2 separate regions of the Homo sapiens genome follow, and region 1 is linked to region 2. Evidence: fine-mapped expression QTL. A gene starts in region 2. The other region holds a variant in brackets. All regions are shown on one strand. Distances are from middle to middle. Region 1 overlaps PVT1 (Pvt1 oncogene). Region 2 holds the start of PVT1 (Pvt1 oncogene).

Region 1 (8,679 bases), 200 kb after region 2:
CATTCATGATTTGGCTGCCAGTGAGGATGGTGGGGGGGCCTGAAAAGGGAAAAGGGCACCGTACTGTAAATGTATGAATGGGGTTTTCTGTGGGGGCCACACCGGAGCATCACAGTTCTTTGAAGGACAGGAGAGAAGGTCAGTGCCTGGATCCCCAGGCTAAGTACCAGGCGCTGCTTTAGGATAGCCTAGAAGGGTGGCCCCTGGGCCTCATTCTCCACACTGTCCCACCCCTTTTGACCACCTCATCTAGCCATCTTGATGATCAGTTAAGATAAGAATCTCTAGTGAGGCTACATTTTTTTGTTTCCTGAATAATGCATGATGTCCACTGAACACATGTTACTAGATGACAGTGTTGGGCTCAGATAAAACTTACAACAAAATTAATCTGATGCAGCCTCCATGGCTCACATGATCCCCACCATGTATGAAATGGGCTGGGCACCCAGGGACAGGCTATTCTCAGAATGGGGTTATTGGGTGTGTTTCTTATTCCTCTCTACCTAGTATTCTTGGAAGAAGGTGAATGAAAATGCTCTAGTAGGGGAGGGAAACATGATTAATGGGTGGGGGCTTATGAGTCAGAAAGACCCAACCATCACTTCTGCCCTGACTGCCTGTGTGACTTCAGAAATGGGGGATATCAAAGCCTATCTCATAGGATTAAACAGTTTAATGTGTATAAAATGCCTAACACAGTGCTTGCCACATAAGCATTGCTCATTAAATGTCTTCTCTTCTTGTGCTCCTCATTCAGTGTATAGTAAATGTGCAGTCCTTATCTTTTAAATGAATGAAACATCTCATTACCAAATCTATTCAAGGTAAACATTGATATTAATATGTATCCTTTTTGTGTGTTTCTAGAATCCTGTTACACCTGGGATTTAGGCACTTTCAATCTGAAAAAATACATATCCTTTCAGCACTCTGGACGGACTTGAGAACTGTCCTTACGTGACCTAAAGCTGGAGTATTTTGAGATTGGAGAATTAAGGTAAGCGACTTTATCTTCCTGATCCTTGTGAAACCAAAAATAGCTTTTGGAGTTGACGACCTCCTGCAGCACAGCTTGGGTTGTGGTTCTTGACCTCTCGGTGTGTCTTCCTGTGCCGCTCCAATGTGTTCGGGAAGCTGGCTCCCCATAACCTCTCCCCGACCTGGTTCTCAGAGTCTAGTCCACTTATTCATTGTGCCTAGGAAGCTCTCCCTCTGTCCCTAGTGGAGGGAGGAGCCCACCATCTCCTAGTGAATGCGCCACTTGTAGCAGAAGGTGCAGGATGCTCCAGCTGTCTTGTGAAAACATGTGGAGACAGCCTTGGGGAAAAGAGGAAAAGGTGAGGTGAGGGTTATATAATCAGATTGAAACACCTTTGGGACATCCAGAACATGAGCTCTTCCTCCTTTCCCAGCCAATCCGTGCTTCCTCCTTTCACCTCCTTGAATTCTATGCTCCTTCCACACTAAGGCTGAGGGTGCAGGAGGTAAAGGGTTAGAGGTTAAGACTGAGTGCTTCAGGTAGACTTGGGTTTTCTTGGTTTTGCTACTTGCCTCATTTTGGACAAGTCACTCAGCCTCTCAAAGCCTTGGTCTCCTCATTAGTAAAATAGGGATGGTATTAGTGCCTGCCTCATGAAGATGTTGTTTGTGTTGAGTGAGATATTGGAGCAAAACAGCTTAGCAGGCTGCCTTGCACTGAGGAAGAAATGCTCCAAAAGGGAAGAGAGTTTTTGCAAATTATTCCTCAATTATGCCATTTAGAATTCCTTCCATGTATCAGGCTATTTTGAAGTCTTTCATTTGCTGTCCCCCCAGCCTTTCACCTATCACCAAGTCAGCCTGGGAAACAGCTGAGAATCACCTTCCCAGTTGTGCCCAGCCCCTTACCCAAAGCAGAGTTGATTCCCCCCTCCCCTGGACGGCAGCGGGCTAGTGAAGGCATGTCTCCACTATACCATGGCTACTGCACTGGGTTGAAATGTCCCTTGCCCCTTCCCCTGCCCATTCCCCCTATTGCTGGTGAAATTGCTTAGAGCAAGGACTGTCTTACACATCACAGGATCTGGCATAGTGCCTGACCGAGGGTGAAACAACAAATGAATGAGTAATTGAAAGGAGAGAGAAAAAGAGATAGAGAAGTAACCAAAAGAAGAAAGTTTTTAAAGGTTCAGAGGAAAGAATGAGGTCAGTTGCAATTTTTTTTAAGTAAGATGTTGGAAAGAATAAATGACATGATGAAAAGGAAACTGACATGATTCCTATCATGAATTTGAAAGCTATGCAAGGGTGGAAAGGTGGGTGAGAAGCTGTGGACTGGTGAGAAGACAGAGAAGTCAGAACTGAGAGCATAGCAGAGAACTGTACTTCTGTTGTGCTACATATGTCATCTTCATCTTTTGTATTGTGCCTTAAATTTTCAAAAGCGCATTTGCGTTTCAAATCTGCTGTGATAGTCAGCATTCCTGTGGCATGCAGAGGTGAAGAGCATGAGGCCTTGCCCTTCAGTCAAGGTGGGGATACTGGCACACATAGGATACTACATACTCCCTAGGTGTCTGTGAGGATGGTGGAGGGGATTTTCTCCATGCCGGGAGGCTTCCTGGAGCAGGTGCTGCCTCTCGTGACTCTTGAAAGATGCTTGTGAATAAAGCATACTGGGAGCTGAGCTGCTGTTTAGTAATTAAAAATCCTTTCCATTGTTTAGAGCTCAGCACCTTTGTGCATTCATATTACGCATTCATTTTCGTATCATTGTTGAATTTCTCACTTCTGCTACTGCAATGTATGTCTACAGCTGACAAGTCTTCCTTGGGAGCCCTACGTAGCTCTTTTTTTTCTTTTCTTTCTTTTTTTTTTTTTTTTTTTTGAGACGGAATCTTGCTCTGTCACCCAGGCTGGAGTGCAGTGGCGCAATCTCGGCTCACTGTAAGCTCCACCTCCCGGGTTCACGCCATTCTCCTGCCTCAGCCTCTTGAGTAGCTGGGACTACAGGTGCCCACCACCACGCCTGGCTACTTTTTTTTGTATTTTTATTAGAGACGGGGTTTCACTGTGTTAGCCAGGATAGTCTTGATCTCCTGACCTTGTGATCTGCCCGCCTTGGCCTCGTAGCTCTTTTTGACCCTCAGGGACAGTCACTGAATTATGTCTTGGGAGCCCATGCTTCTGAGGCAGGCTTAGGGAGCAGGAGAGCATACAGGTGTAGCAGCCTTTCCAGCTGATCCCCATGCCCTGCTGCACCTGGAGGGCTGGAACAAGCTATTCTCATATTGGGGAAAAGGGCTGATGGGACCTCAGTCATGTGGCAGAGAATCTGAAAGCCAGAAGCTTGGCAGGTCTGTCTCGGGGTGGGGTGACGGAGAGACATTTCCCTAGAATTCAGCTGCTGGGAGCAGAAAGACAGAGCAGGGGCAAGTGCTGGGTTTCTGAGGCCCGCAGTCCTGAGCATGGCCTCAGGCAGTCTGTTCTATGACAGAACCTGAAGAAAGGCCCAGGCATTTGCATCTATGTGTGCAGTTCTACTTGTCCTAAAGGCACTTCTCACACTGGGAGCCTGCCTGTCTGTACCTGTCTAGAAATCAGCCTGGCTGGGACGCACACCAATAGGAGGGCATCCTCACCTTTCCCACCCATGAGTCGGGACTGTTGCCTGCTGTGCAGCAAAGGCACCAGGAACACGGAGTCAGACACTTAGGGTCTACCCCAGGCTCCACTTCCCACTGCCTATTTGACTCTGGGCAAGTCTTTTACAGCTTTTCAAACTTCTCTCTTTCTTAAAACAAAAAAAAAAAAAAAGGAAAAAAATTTCTTGCCAGGCACAGTGGCTCACGCCTGTAATTCCAGCATTTTGGGAGGCTGAGGTGGGCTAATCACTTGAGGCCAGGAGTTCGAGACCAGCCTGGCCAACATGGTGAAACCCTGTCTCTATTAAAAATACAAAGATTAGCCAGGCATGGTGGCACACGCCTGTAATCCTAGCTACTTGGGAGGCTTAGGCACAAGAGTCACTTGAAACTGGGAGGCAGAGTTGTAGTTAGCCAAGATTGTGCCACTGCACTCCAGCCTGGGCAACAGAGCAAGACTCTGTCTCAAAACACACGTACAAATTTTTTTCTTTTATTTTTTTAAAGACAGGGTCTTAGCTATGTGGCCCAGGCTGGCCTCCAATCCCTGGGCTTAAGCAATCCTCCCACCTCAGTCTCCTGAGTAGCTAGTACTATAGGCACACACCACACACCCAGCCAGACTTCAATTTTCCCAGCCACATCATGGACCAGAAGCCACTTGGTCTGGTTGTGAGGATGACGGAACCTTGCCCGAGGAAATGGGCAATGAACAGGAGCCTGTTTGTTTCTCCTTCCAGCTCCTGACCTGTCTAGCTCCTGACCCTCTCAGTGTCATTCTTGCTCACCCCTGGCCCTGCTCCCTGGATATGCAGACAGGATGGGCTTCTTCCCTTTAGACCTTCACTTTGCTCTTTTGGACTCCTCTTCTGGCCTTGCCTTCCCCTGGTGTCATCTGCTGGCTCCCTGCCTGATACTGCCACACTGGTCATGCTGGCCTCCTGGCCTTTGGTGACACCGCATCAGCAGGCTCCTGCTTCCCTGTCAAGGGATACAAGCCAGCACCGGTCTTTCGCCACAAGGTATGTGTGTAAAGATTGCTTCCTGTACTTGGTGTCCACAGGATTTTAAAGAACTCCTGGCCCACTCGGAACTCTACGCTTGAAACAGAAACATCTTCTCAAAACACCTCTGGTATTGGCCCATTTCTCTATTACTGTTTCTTGTGGTTTCATACTGAGGTTTTTGGTGCATTGCAATTGCCCTGGAGTTTATTTTTAGTAATAAAGACAGAGTTCAATTAATGTCAAAACATGAGGGTAATTGCAGAGGAAGGATTAGTAAGTCTAGGGGAAAATGTGCCCAACTTTTTTTCTTCTGATAACATCTTTCACTGATCATACACCGTCACACCCACAGACACGGAGCTTCCTCCGTGATGTCTGCAATGCACTAGGCCCAGTCGGGGAGCAGTGGCTGC[G/A]CCACCACCTGAAAACGAAAGCATTTCTGAGTCTCTTTCAGTCCAGCTCATCTAGCAGCCAGCCACACAGGTGACCACCCACCGTAGCTGTCACTATGGGTGATGATTATCATTATGGTTTTGAGGAAAGGCTGGGCTTTAGAATAGTCAATTCTTATCCTCTCTCCGGGGGGATTTATTCTGTCTCCAGAAGCAGCATTTCACTTTCCTGAACATCAGCTCTTCTCCCCTGGATTGCAGGGTCTAGGTCTTGTTCTCTGTCTGCTTCCAGCTTTTGGCATTTTGACAGCACATAGGACATGCTTGGAGAACGTTTTCTTGAGTTAACTGAATTCAGGACACTGACTTGGGGCTGGAAAGGCAAAGTGAGGAAGAAAGTATTCCCCTTTCAGAAGCTCCCCAGTCTGCCTTAAGAAACAAAGGCAGCCCTGTCATCTGCCCAGGACTTTACAGTTTATAAAGTGATTTCTCATCCTTTCTCCTTTCTTGTATTGCACAAATATCGAACGAGAACCTGCAGTGTGCCACTGTGCAGGGTGCCTAGAATAAAGGAGAAAAGCCACTGTGCTTTCTCTGAAGGAATCACAGGGAGTGAAGCTAGCTTCATGGATGCCAGAATTTCACAGATGAAGGGACTGGAGGCTTGGAGCAATTGCATTGCTTGAGATCCCCCCTGCTCATGGATGGTGGCTCCCAAATCAGGACATGAGTCTTCTGAATCCCTTAAACCTGCCCTGTGCCTGCCTGTTCTCCCAGCACATTCTCTGTACTCTCTTGTGCTGCTCCTCACCCCCTCTCCAACTGTCTCTCCTTCTCCACCATTGTCCTCTGCCCACTCCTAGTCCCTTCTTTCAGCTCTGTTTCTTCTGAAAATGAGGATCTTTCTCTCTACAGTGCCTCTTGTGGGACGGGTTCTGCTGATGGGGGCTGTGTTTGGGATCTCGCCTGGAAACACGATCTCTCCAACTTTCCCTGGGAGCAGAGCCTTGGGTCTCACTGAACCCACCTCCCCAGCACCTTGTGTGGTGACTGGCAGGAGGTAGCCATTCCCTCCTGTCCTCTCTGCCCTTGTCCACTTTCCTGTTATGAGTCAGTTGCTGAGATAGGCTATGAGGAGTTAACAGAGTGGATAAAAAAGAGCTTTGTCCTTCTTTAAAGCCTTCAAAATATACAGATGTATTAGTCAGGGCTTTCCAGAGAAACAGGACCAATAGAACATGAAGATAGATGCGTATCCATGTCTATATCAATATCTACCTTGATATTTATATCTATATCTAGGAGATTTATTTATTATAAGGTATTGGCTCATGCAATTATGGACCCAGAGGGGTCCTGTGATTTGCCACCTGCAGGCTGGAGACCTAGGAAACAGCTGTCGTGTCACAAAGGGCAGAGGGCTGGAGAACCTGTAGTGTAGATTCCAGTCCAGATTCGAAGGCCTGAGGACCAGGAATGCCAAGGGCAGGAGAAGATCGATGTCCCAGAACAAGCAATCAGGCAGAGATGAAATTCAACCTTCCTGTGCCTTTCTGTTCTATTCAGGCCTTCAGTGGGTTGAATGAGGCCCAACCCACATTGAAGAGGACCATCTGCTTTACTCAGTCTCCTGGTTGAAGTGATAATCTCATCTGGACATACTCAGAAATGCTGTTTAACCAGCTCTCTGGAAATCCTGTGGCCCAGTCAAGTTGACACACAAAATTAACCATCACACTGCAGAGACACAGTCTATCCCAATACCTGTATTTACTGGGTAACGTGCATCTCAGCTCACCAGGCTGGTTTGATTGACTTGGCCCAAAGCTGCCCTTTGAGTGTTGAGCCCCAGCTGACCCCTTTGATCCTTCACAGCCCCATCATTAAAACAAGGACCCTGAATCAAGTGACTGTAAGAGCCACTCTTGTCCTGTTCTGTCTGTATCCTGGCTTTGAGTGTTTATCTAAGCTAAGCCCAATTGACTGTTGTCATTCTTTGTCTCTTCCTTGCTCAGACATCAGTTAGGTATTTATTGAACACTCCTGTGTTCACAGCATCCGGCTCCTGGGATTAGAGACAGCTCTTGACTCCTGGTTTTGCTCTTTGAAACCTATTGGACTGCTTTTCTTTTAAGATACACCCCCCACATTATAGGAATCTATCCATTTCTTTGTTCATTTCTTTAATTGTGCATTATATCAGTCCGTCAGTCAGTTTTCCTCCTGAAATATGCTAAGTATTGAGAATTATAATAGATTCTATTAAGCACCGCTAATAAAGTACTATCCTTATAGTAGTAGTAGTGTTTGCGGTGATGGTCGTGTTAGTACTAGTAGTAATCAAGATGGCCATGAAGAGACTGCTTTTAATCTACCAGTAATCATGGTAAAAATAGTAATAGCTCAAATGTATTATTCATGGTGTTTCAAGCACTTTACATTATATGATGTCATTTACTCTTCACAACCTGCCAGGAAATGGAAATGATTACGTAATATACTCCAGTTTGCAAATGAAGGAATCTTCCTGCGGAACGTATGTGAAGCGCATATTGGTGCTCTGGGCTTTTGCATAATTTCAAATGTCCTTTTTTTTTTTAAACTTAAGGCTAATGTTTAGAAGCTTTTGCTAATGAGAGGACCATTTGCTAAATCGGTATAAGTGCTACACATTTGGGTATCTCCATCCCAACATACCTCTTATTGCCATTCCCCAAAGCAGACACCTTCTCCTCCCTCCCTCAAGGACCTCTGAGCTTGCACTCCAATTCCTCTCCCACACTCACCTTTCTCCTTTCTGTTCCTCTTGGGATCCAGGTTTATTTGAGGAGATAGGAAAAGCTCCTGATCCAGCAGGTTTTATTCTTAAATTTGTAACAAAGTAAATCACAGAACCTCCACCCAGCATCCAGGCCTCTGGTTCTCTCCCTCCTTCCCAGGTATAGGCCGGCTTTCAGAAACCCTGCACCACATAGACCCTGGGCCTGAATTGCTGTGAGTAATAATGACTCTGCTGGTAATTTGTGTCCTTCTGCTTGGAACTGTTTCCTTTTTAGTTTGGTCACCCTCCCAGAGCTGGTTTCAATGGGGGCATACCCATTATGGGATGCAGGGCATCCTGCATCCTGAGGAATTTTTTTTCCTCCAAAAATGAAACCTTGAAATGAGGACATTGTCCTGTCCACGGACTGCACAACAACACTGAGCCTCAAGGACTCATACTGGCATTTTTCTTCTTTTGCAGAGTGTGGGCACCCTGGCTTCAAGCTCACGAGAAACCAGGTCGGGATTTAAACAATGTTGGGTTAAAGCAAAGTTTCATAAAGACAGAATCAAGAAAAAAAGAAAGAGAAACCAATCTAAGTGCCATCCTCCCTGAGTTGCATCTTACCTGAGTCTTCAGCCGCCGCCCCCTGCTGCTGTGGGAGGAAACGGGAAAGTGACTGGCCATGGGGACAGGGGTCGGGGGTGTGAGGGTTAGTGGTAGCAGGGAGGTAGCACTTCTGTGAAGCCGGAAAGGAGACCTGAACCTGGCTCTCTGCTTTGCTGCTTGCCAGCCCTCTGGCTGGGAAGAAGGCTCTTGGCTCTTGTGAGCCTCGGTTTCCTCTGCAGAGTGGCCTGTTCTGAGGACAGGCTGACATTGCTGTCCATCAG
Region 2 (8,679 bases):
AACTAGGCTAGCGCAGTGGCTCATGCCTGTAATCTCAACACTTTGGGAGGCCGAGGCGGGTGAATCACTTGAGCCCGGGAGTAAGCCAGGCATGGTGGCACATACCTACTCAGGAGGCTGAGGTGGGAGGACTGCTTGAGCCTGAGAGGTGGAGGCTGCAGTGAGTCGAGTTTGCACCACTGCTCTTCAGTCTGGATGACAGAGTGAGATCCTGTCTCAAAACAAAAACAAAAACAAAAACAAAAACAGAAAACAACGAACAAATACAGGTGAGGTAAAGGGAGATGTGAGAAAATGTGTGAATGTAATAGCAAAAAGTTGCCTGGACTTTACAATGATGAGGCCTACAAGTAAAACATCATCATGCCACTCTTTCCTTGCTTTTCATTATCTTTTCTGAACCTTTGTAGCCTTATTTAGAAAGCAATGCTTCTCATGTGGTAAATAAATATTTAAAACACAACAATTCCTTTAGTTTTATGTTAGCTTCCTTTTCTTCTACTAAAAAAATTAGATTTCTTAAAAATTGCAACTATGAGACATTAACATTGTAAAATATTTTTCCTATCTATTTGTCAATCCTGCATCCATCTATATATCTATATCAAGATCTATGCCTATATGTATCCATCTGTGCCCAAAAAGGCCTCATCTGATATTCAGAAAAATTATTTCTGGCTGATAAAATTTGTTTTTCTTCTCTATTTTTTTTTCTGCAGAGTTTTAATGTTTTACAACGTGTATGTATGTGTGTGTGTGTATATATATATATAATATCACTTTTGCAAGAAGAAAAGTGACTTTTAAAAAATGAAAGCAGGCCTGGGCACGGTGGCTCACGCCTGTAATCCCAGCACTTTGGGAAGCTGAAGCGGGTGGATCACGAGGTTAGGAGATCGAGACCATCCTGGCCAACATGGTGAAACCCCGTCTCTATTAAAATACAAAAAATTAGCAGGGCATGGTGGCGCACGCCTGTAGTCCCAGCTACATGGGAGGCTGAGGCAGGGGAATCGCTTAAACCCAGGAGGTGGAGGTTGCAGTGAGCCGAGATTGAGCTGCTGCATTCAAGCCCGGTAACACAGCAAGACTCCATTTAAAAACAAACAAACAAACAAACAAACAAACAAACAAAACAAAACAAAAGCAGATATACCAAAATGTTTATTTTGGATGGTAGGAATATTAAAATATTATTTTTTCTTTGTATTTTTACTGAAAAAATGTTTTAATTCTAAAAAAGAAATTAATAAAAAGGAAAATGTGAATCTAAGATTAGTGCATGAGAGCTGGAGACCCAGAGAGGGCAAACAGCATCAAGGTCAAAGTTGAGTGAGTCCTGGGTGAAAGTGTCTTTTCAGCCAGGGGAGATTTTCCATGCAGAAGGGACTGGGCATCAACTGTCAGGACATGGACAGAGACGTCTGCCATTAGAAGCTGGTCCTCTCATAGCCCACCAGCATCCCCCAGGAGGACACTGGCTTCCTCAAGGTCACAGCCTTTGGTTTCTGGAAAAAATGATTAAGCAGTGAAAGGATTAAGGTCTCACAGCTCCTATCGCATGATGTATAGATGCAGAGGTTTCTCATCATCTTCTTTTTATATTTTAAAAGATGGATGACAACTAGATGCCAACTGCAGCTCAGGCACCTGCCCAGTCCCTCTCAGAGCCGGGCACAAAACAGACACCTGTCTAGCCCCTCACAGAGAGCCAGGCACAAAACAGACACCTGTCCAGCCCCTCACAGAGAGCCAGGCACAAAGCGGAGACTTGTCCAGCTCCTGGCAAGGAGCCAGGCACAAAAGAGATGCCCATGAGTGTAAATGAATCTGTGAAACAGGCAGAACAGGAGCATCAACTGAGTAATTGTTTTTTCTTTTTCAAATAAGAACATTTGCGTTGAGAAGCCGCCACGGGAAGAGATGTGATGAAACACTACACAGAAAGAGGGAGGAGCCTCCGGGTAGGTTGGAGTGAGTAGGATGTAGGGTAGCCGGCAGGGGAGAAGAGGGGCAACCTTCTGTTCCGTAATATTGATACCACCCATTTGTGTGTCCAATTTTTGCTGGTTTGTGACGTCCTTCTAGGGTCCATGAGTAACCCCCACCCCATTGCCTAGCTGGGTGCCTGACTCCCCTTAAGTGCTCAGTAGACGTTGAACTGGACGGGCGCTGGCGTGGTGGCTCACGCCTGTAATCCCAGCAATTTGGGAGGCCGAAGCGAGTGGATCATCTCAGGTTCGGAGTTCGAGACCAGCCTGGCCAACATGGTGAAACCTTGTCTCTGCTAAAATTACAAAAATTAGCTGGGCGTGGTGGCGCGCGCCTGTGATCCCAGCTACTCCGGAGGCTGAGGCAGGAGAATCGCTTGAACCAGGCAGGCGGAGGTTGCAGTGAGCCATGATCGGGCCACTGCACTCCAGCCTGGGTGACAGAGTGAAACTTCATCTCTAAATAAATAAATAAATAAATAAATAAATAAATAAATAAAATAAACTTTGAACTGAACAGGGGCAGCTCTTACATCTGTCCAGTCTCGGGTTTATGCAGATAGAACAAGATAACCACATCCCACATGGGAGGCCAGTGTCCACTTGCTCCTTTGGAGGAACTACTGGGCATTTAAGGGACTCGTTGAACACACTCTGTAGGTCAACTCTGCCCGGAGTGGAGGGAGCTGCGCAGACCGCTGGCCCTCTGCACGGGTTTGCAACTCGGCTTCTGGAAACAGCGGGAGACGTCGAAGGAGGCGAGAAGGTGCGCGCGCCCTTCTCACCAGGCCGGCGGATGCTGGGTGGTACCCAAAGAGGCGCTCAGATCACTGGAGCTGGAGCTCAGTCGGCGGTCTTCTGCGGGAACTGCACCTATCCCGGAGCATCTCTGGCCCTCCTATTTCACTGAACTCGCCTTCCTCAGCAGGAAAGTGGGAAGACCGCTTGCTTCCAGGACGGTGTGGGGAAGGGTAAGAGGGCTCAGGGAAAGACCGTGGAAAGCTCGGCGCACAAGCGAGCTGGCATCACCGGGGATTCCCTCCGGCCCGGTGGGACTCCGGCGCGCTTGTAGCGAGGACCCCCAGCCCAGGGCAGAGCCTACCCTCCGCTCCCCCAGTCTGGGCCCTTGGCGGCCGCAGTCGCCCAAGCCCGCCCCGCCTCCGCGCGCGGCCCTCTCCGGCTCAGTGCCCTGCGCTGCCGGGAAGCAGGCTGAGGGGCGCACCGGGCGGCGGGCGGGGACCTGGGGAAGGCCGGGAGCGCCGGGACCGAGGACGCACGCGGCGGGCCGGGCCGCGCGCGCCTCCCCCCTCCCCCGAGGCCCGAGCGCGAGCCGCCGTGACGTCACGGGCAACCCGCCAGCCCCGCGCTCCTCCGGGCAGAGCGCGTGTGGCGGCCGAGCACATGGGCCCGCGGGCCGGGCGGGCTCGGGGCGGCCGGGACGAGGAGGGGCGACGACGAGCTGCGAGCAAAGATGTGCCCCGGGACCCCCGGCACCTTCCAGTGGATTTCCTTGCGGAAAGGATGTTGGCGGTCCCTGTGACCTGTGGAGACACGGCCAGATCTGCCCTCCAGTAAGTTCCAATTTTGTCCCCTGCGTTTCTGGAAACTCTCGAGACTTGGCCCTGAGTAGGGATGCGCTGTGAGTAGTCGGACGGAGGAAAGGGGCTTTCGGAATCCAATATGTGTGTGCTAGGCGTGCACTGTCCTCATCACCAGCCTCAAGACTGGTGGCGAGTTTGGGCGTTTGGGGAGGGTGAGGGGAGGGGGATGACACCGAATGGCCGGTGCATAGAGGCAATTCTGGATTTATGAACTTGATCAAAGGCATATTAACTAATTTCTAAAAATAGACCCCTCTGCAGTCAGAACAGATTTGGAGCCATGATGTGGTTTGGAGGCCCCTCTGGCGAAACTAGAGGTCTGTGAATGTGTGATCCTCCCTCCATCCTTTGACCATCACTCCCCGCTTCCTCTCACACCCCCTCAGGGCTGGGCGAAGGTGATTTCCAAAAACTCAGTAACTCCGTGTTTTGAGACTTTCTCAGTTTTTGCATCGCATGTGAGGGTTTGTTGGGTGCTCCTAAACCCTCATCATGGTCATTCTTCTTGGCTGGGCTGTTGATTTAATTAGGTTTGCCTTCTCTTGCTAACGTGCTCTTATTTATGCCAGTGTTTGTGGTTCTGGGTGTAGACTTTCAGGAAGCACAGCCATGAAGCTGCATGCGTCTGTGTGTGGATGCCTCATGCCTTTTCCTGGTGGTTTGCAGGCATGGAAGATTCTTCTGTTCATCTAAGCTCCTGACTTTAGGCCCTTCTAGAACATTAGAGAGGAGAAGAAATCACGTGCAAGGATTTAGGGACAAGAGGATGAGGTTTTGGTGTTTCCTTTCTGGTATTAGGTTTTCCAGAGAGAGGCTGTTAGCCTGTCTCTCGCCCACTCCACCACTGTGAATCCTGGCTACTGGGGCTAGTTCCTTGCTAGGAAAAAAAAACTCTAGAGAAATGTGTTTGTGTGTGGTGGGTGGGCGGGGGCCCTGAGGATGCAGGGACTGTGTCTGCTGTGTTGTCTGTTATAAGATGTTTCAGACCTATTTTGCATACTGGCAGCGACAAGTTGAGACTTGTTCAACTTGACACAGTCCTGTGGTCATAGCGAATCTTTCTAAAGCTCTGATCAGTCAAGAAGGGGGTTGTATCAATCCTCAGAACCCTGAGTGGAACTTTCTACAGGATTTATTAGGAGAAAAACCTTCCCGGAAGCTGCAGAAGGACAAATACAGAATCCGTGTCTGGGAGAAACCTCGTGGCCTGGTCTCCATTATTTGAGATGAGTTACATCTTGGAGGTGAGGACGTGCCTCGTGGTCTAAAGCTTCGGCACAAGGGCCCAACTGGAATTCCACTTACGGGTATGACTGTGGGGTATATGCTGTACCCATTGAATTCCCAGAGGGATTTGTTAAGTGGTTGTGTTGCTGTTTTGCCTGGTTAAGAGTGGCTTATTCTTGTTGCCTCATCTATCTTGAGTGCAGAATTTTTGCATAAACGGCTTCTCTTGAAAAATAGAAGTCCGTTTTTGTTTTGTTTTGTTTTTTTTCTGATTAACTTTCCTTTTCCTCTGTCTTAAACACCTTCCCCCGCCCCTCGCCACCTCCATGCTGTGTTTCTGTGGCTGGAGCTTTTCTGCACTGGAAAGGAGGAGTTCTCCCCTCTGTTCTGACATATCTGATCCCCACTAGTTTATATGATTGCTGGTCTGAAAACCTGGTGAATTCTCACTGCCCACATCAAATCAATTCCCTGTTCTTTAGTTGTTTTTTTTTTCCGCCTCCTGAGCGGTAGGCAGGCACTCTGGCTGGATTCTGGAGCCTGTGTTTGCCATGCCTGGGCCTTCTGCCTGCCCAAGATGGACACGTTTCTCTGGCAGCTTTGTCAAGAGATCTCCTGGACTATAAGACACCCTGTTCTTTCCTCCTGTTTGTGTGAGTGGCCCTGCATTTGGGCAGAGTATTGGCAGAATATCTGGGGGAAGTGGAAGACTTTGGATAGTTGCCGGTCCAGGTCGTCTGGAGAGGCAGTGGCAGGCCTGCTGATGGCTGCCCCTTTGCTATTTGTTTTATATCAGGTGGCCCTTCTGGATGTGTGGCCTTTTTATTTTGCATTTCCTTTCATAGTTGGCTGCAGACATAAGATTCTTCTTTTTCTCTTGTTTTGCTTTTTTTTTTTTTTTTTTGAGACAGAGTTTCACTCTTGTTGCCCAGGCTGGAGTAAAATGGCTGGATTTCAGCTCACTGCAACTTCCGCCTCCCAGGTTCAAGCGATTCTCCTGCCTCAGCCTCCCAAGTAGCTAGGATTACAGGCATGCATCACCACACCCAGCTAATTTTGTATTTTTAGTAGAGACGGAGTTTCTCCAGATTGGTCAGGCTGGTCTTGAACTCCCAGCCTCAGGTGATCCGCCCGCCTTGGCCTCCCAAAATGCTGGGAGGCCTCCCAAGTTGCTGGGATTACAGGCATGGACCACCATGCCTGGCTAATTTTGTATTTTTAGTAGAGACGGAGTTTCTCCAGATTGGTCAAGCTGGTCTCGAACATCTGACCTCAGGTGATCTGCCCTCCTCGGCCTCCCAAAGTACTGGGATTACAGGTGCCACAGTACCCGGCCTTGTTTTGCTTTTTATTGTTTCCTGATGCAGGTTTGTGATCTCTTTGAGGGATCAGGACCACACCCCCCACCCCAATTTATATTCCCAGTGTCCATGGTGGGACCCTGACTGAGGATGGGAACAGAGCAACAATCTGGAATCATTTGGACCATTGAGTCCTGTGGACAGTCACTTCAATATCATCCCTAGAGAGTCTCAGAAATTCAAGGCCTTTTGGAATGCTGCCAAAATGGGTCCTTTGGCAGGAGCCCCCTTTGTCTCTTCTGTTTTCTGACCTCAAATAATCTAAGGAACTAATAACGGTAATAAATAACAATTAATAATAAGAACAATAATAGTGCATGTATAACATGGACATTGTTTATCACGCAAAGCATGTTCTTCACCTTCTACTCCCTACAACTCCATGAGGCATTTATAATGAAATGTCTAGCAATGGTAGACTTCTTGTTGTGGGGCAGGGTTGGTTCTAACACTTCAAATTATATGATCTCATTTAACTTTCCTATAAAATAGGATGATTATTGTTGTGGTTTTGCAGATGAGGAACCCACAGCCCAGAGAGGTTAAAAATATCCTCCCAGGTCACACAGCTTGGGAGAGGCAGAGCTGTAGAGATTTGGACCACAGTCTTCGACTTCTTAGTGTGACTCTCAGAAGTTAGAGGATAATGAGGTTAAGAACAAGCAAAGGGCCGGGCGCGGTGGCTCACACCTGTAATCCCAGCACTTTGGGAGGCTGAGGCAGGTGGATCACCTGAGGTCAGGAGTTCGAGACCAGCCTGGCCAACATGGTGAAACCCGGTCTCTACTACAAATACAAAAAATTAGCCGGGCATGGTGGCGCACACTTGTAATTCCAGCTACTTGGGAGTCTGAGGCAGGAGAATTGCTTGAACCCGGGAGGCGGAGGTTGCCGGGAGCCGAGATCGCACCATTGTATTCCAGCCTGGGCAACAAGAGCAAAACTCAGTCTCAAAAAAAAAACAACAAGAAAAGGGTATACCCCTTGGCCTTGAGCAGGAGAACACAGTGTGTCCCCCACCCTCACCGTGCACCTTAGGCACAAACAGAAAGCTGAACATCTTGCATGAAGATACCTCATGCTCTGCCTGCCGACCTTTTCTGCAGCCACGGAGCAGTCAGAGACAAAGGGGCCAAGAGGCCTTAGGTGAGGGCTGCCATGCTGGAAAGTTTGGGCTGTGGGTGTGGGCAGGAGTCATGGGTAGAGGTCAGAACCCTTAGTCTTGGCTGGGTGCAGTAGCTCACACCCGTAATCCCAGCACTTTGGGAGGCTGAGGCCGGTAGATTACCTGAGGTCAGGAGTTCAAGACCAGCCTGGCCAGCATGGTGAAACCCTGTCTCTACTAAAAATACAAAAAAAAAAAAAAAAAAAAAATTAGCCCGGCGTGGTGGCACACGCCTGTAGTCCTAGCTACTCGGGAGGCTGAGGTAGGAAGATCTCTTGAACCCGGGAGACGGAGTTTGCAGTGAGCTGAGATTGCCAGTGCACTCCTGCCTGGGAGATAGAGTAAGACTTTGTCTCAAAAAACAAACAACCGCCTCGGTCTTTGTGCAAAATCTATAATCATTTGCAAGAGGCTGCAATCAGGTATAGCACTGGATTTTGTGACCAAAACTAGGTTTCAGGATTTAATTAAAAACAAAAACAATGTCAGGTCATAAAACACAAGACATATACATGATGTGGAAATGGTCTTATTCATTTTTTAATTGCGAAATTCCGAACTATCTGTTTTTTTTTTCCTTTATCTTTTCCTTTTTGTGTGTGTGTGGAGTTAGGTGGGGGGGGAGGTATGGCATATTGTTTTGTTTATCTGCCTCTTTATTATCACTGACTGTGAAATTCTTGAGAACAGGGGCGTCTAAGTGCCCAACACAGCCCTGGTACTTTGTTGAATCAGGTGGCTGTCAAGAGCTGCTGCTTCAGCCCGGCATGGTGGCTTATGCCTATAATTTTTGCACTTTGAGAGGCTGAGGCAGGAGGATTGCTTGAGCTGAGAAGTTTGAGACCAGCCTGGGCAGCAGAGTGAGACTCTGTCTCTGTAAAAAATAATAAAATAAAAATTAAAAAATAAAGAAAGAACTGCTTTGTCTTCAAGGAAACAAGATACACAGTCAACAGTCATTATCTTTTTAGATATGAGACAGCTTGACATGGTGTGGAAGTGGGGGGCTTGCCTGTAGGGAAAGTATGCTGATGAAAAAGAAGGAAAACAGACAGTAGCAGGAGGCAGTGGGGATGTGTCAGGGAGCTGAGGAGTGTAGATCTGGTTACTTTTGGGCAAGTTACTTCTCTAAGCTTCAGTTTCCTCATCTATAAAATGGTTTGCTGTGATGACGAAAGAGATGATGAACAGAATGTGTCTGGCAGAGGACCTGGGCTCATAAGTGAGCACACAGTAAAAGGTAGCTAATATCATTACTGTTCCAATTATTGAGCTTTATTACTTCCTGTGGCTGCATGAAGTAGTGGTTTCTGAATAGAAAGGCAACATTCTAG

Evidence for each region.
Region 1: its variant is fine-mapped to the expression of PVT1 in whole blood (TOPMed, PIP above 0.99).

Annotation. Positions count from the first base shown.
Region 1 is chr8:127,988,292-127,996,970 of GRCh38, forward strand. It overlaps PVT1 (Pvt1 oncogene), which reads left to right. Exons shown (of 9, transcript NR_190187.1): 4 at 871-1,000. Among named protein-coding and RNA genes, the nearest start is that of MIR1206, 16 kb to the right of the region's middle. RefSeq lists enhancers at 4,004-4,505, 4,471-4,800, 4,506-5,005, 8,290-8,379. The variant G/A (reference allele first, on the strand shown) is at 5,047.
Region 2 is chr8:127,791,173-127,799,851 of GRCh38, forward strand. It overlaps PVT1 (Pvt1 oncogene), which reads left to right and starts at 3,352. Exons shown (of 9, transcript NR_190187.1): 1 at 3,352-3,562. It overlaps MIR1204 (microRNA 1204), which reads left to right and starts at 4,790; the gene lies at 4,790-4,856. RefSeq lists enhancers at 1,762-2,332, 3,475-4,044, 4,045-4,616, 4,338-4,387, 4,488-4,827 and silencers at 3,058-3,107, 3,128-3,187, 3,198-3,357.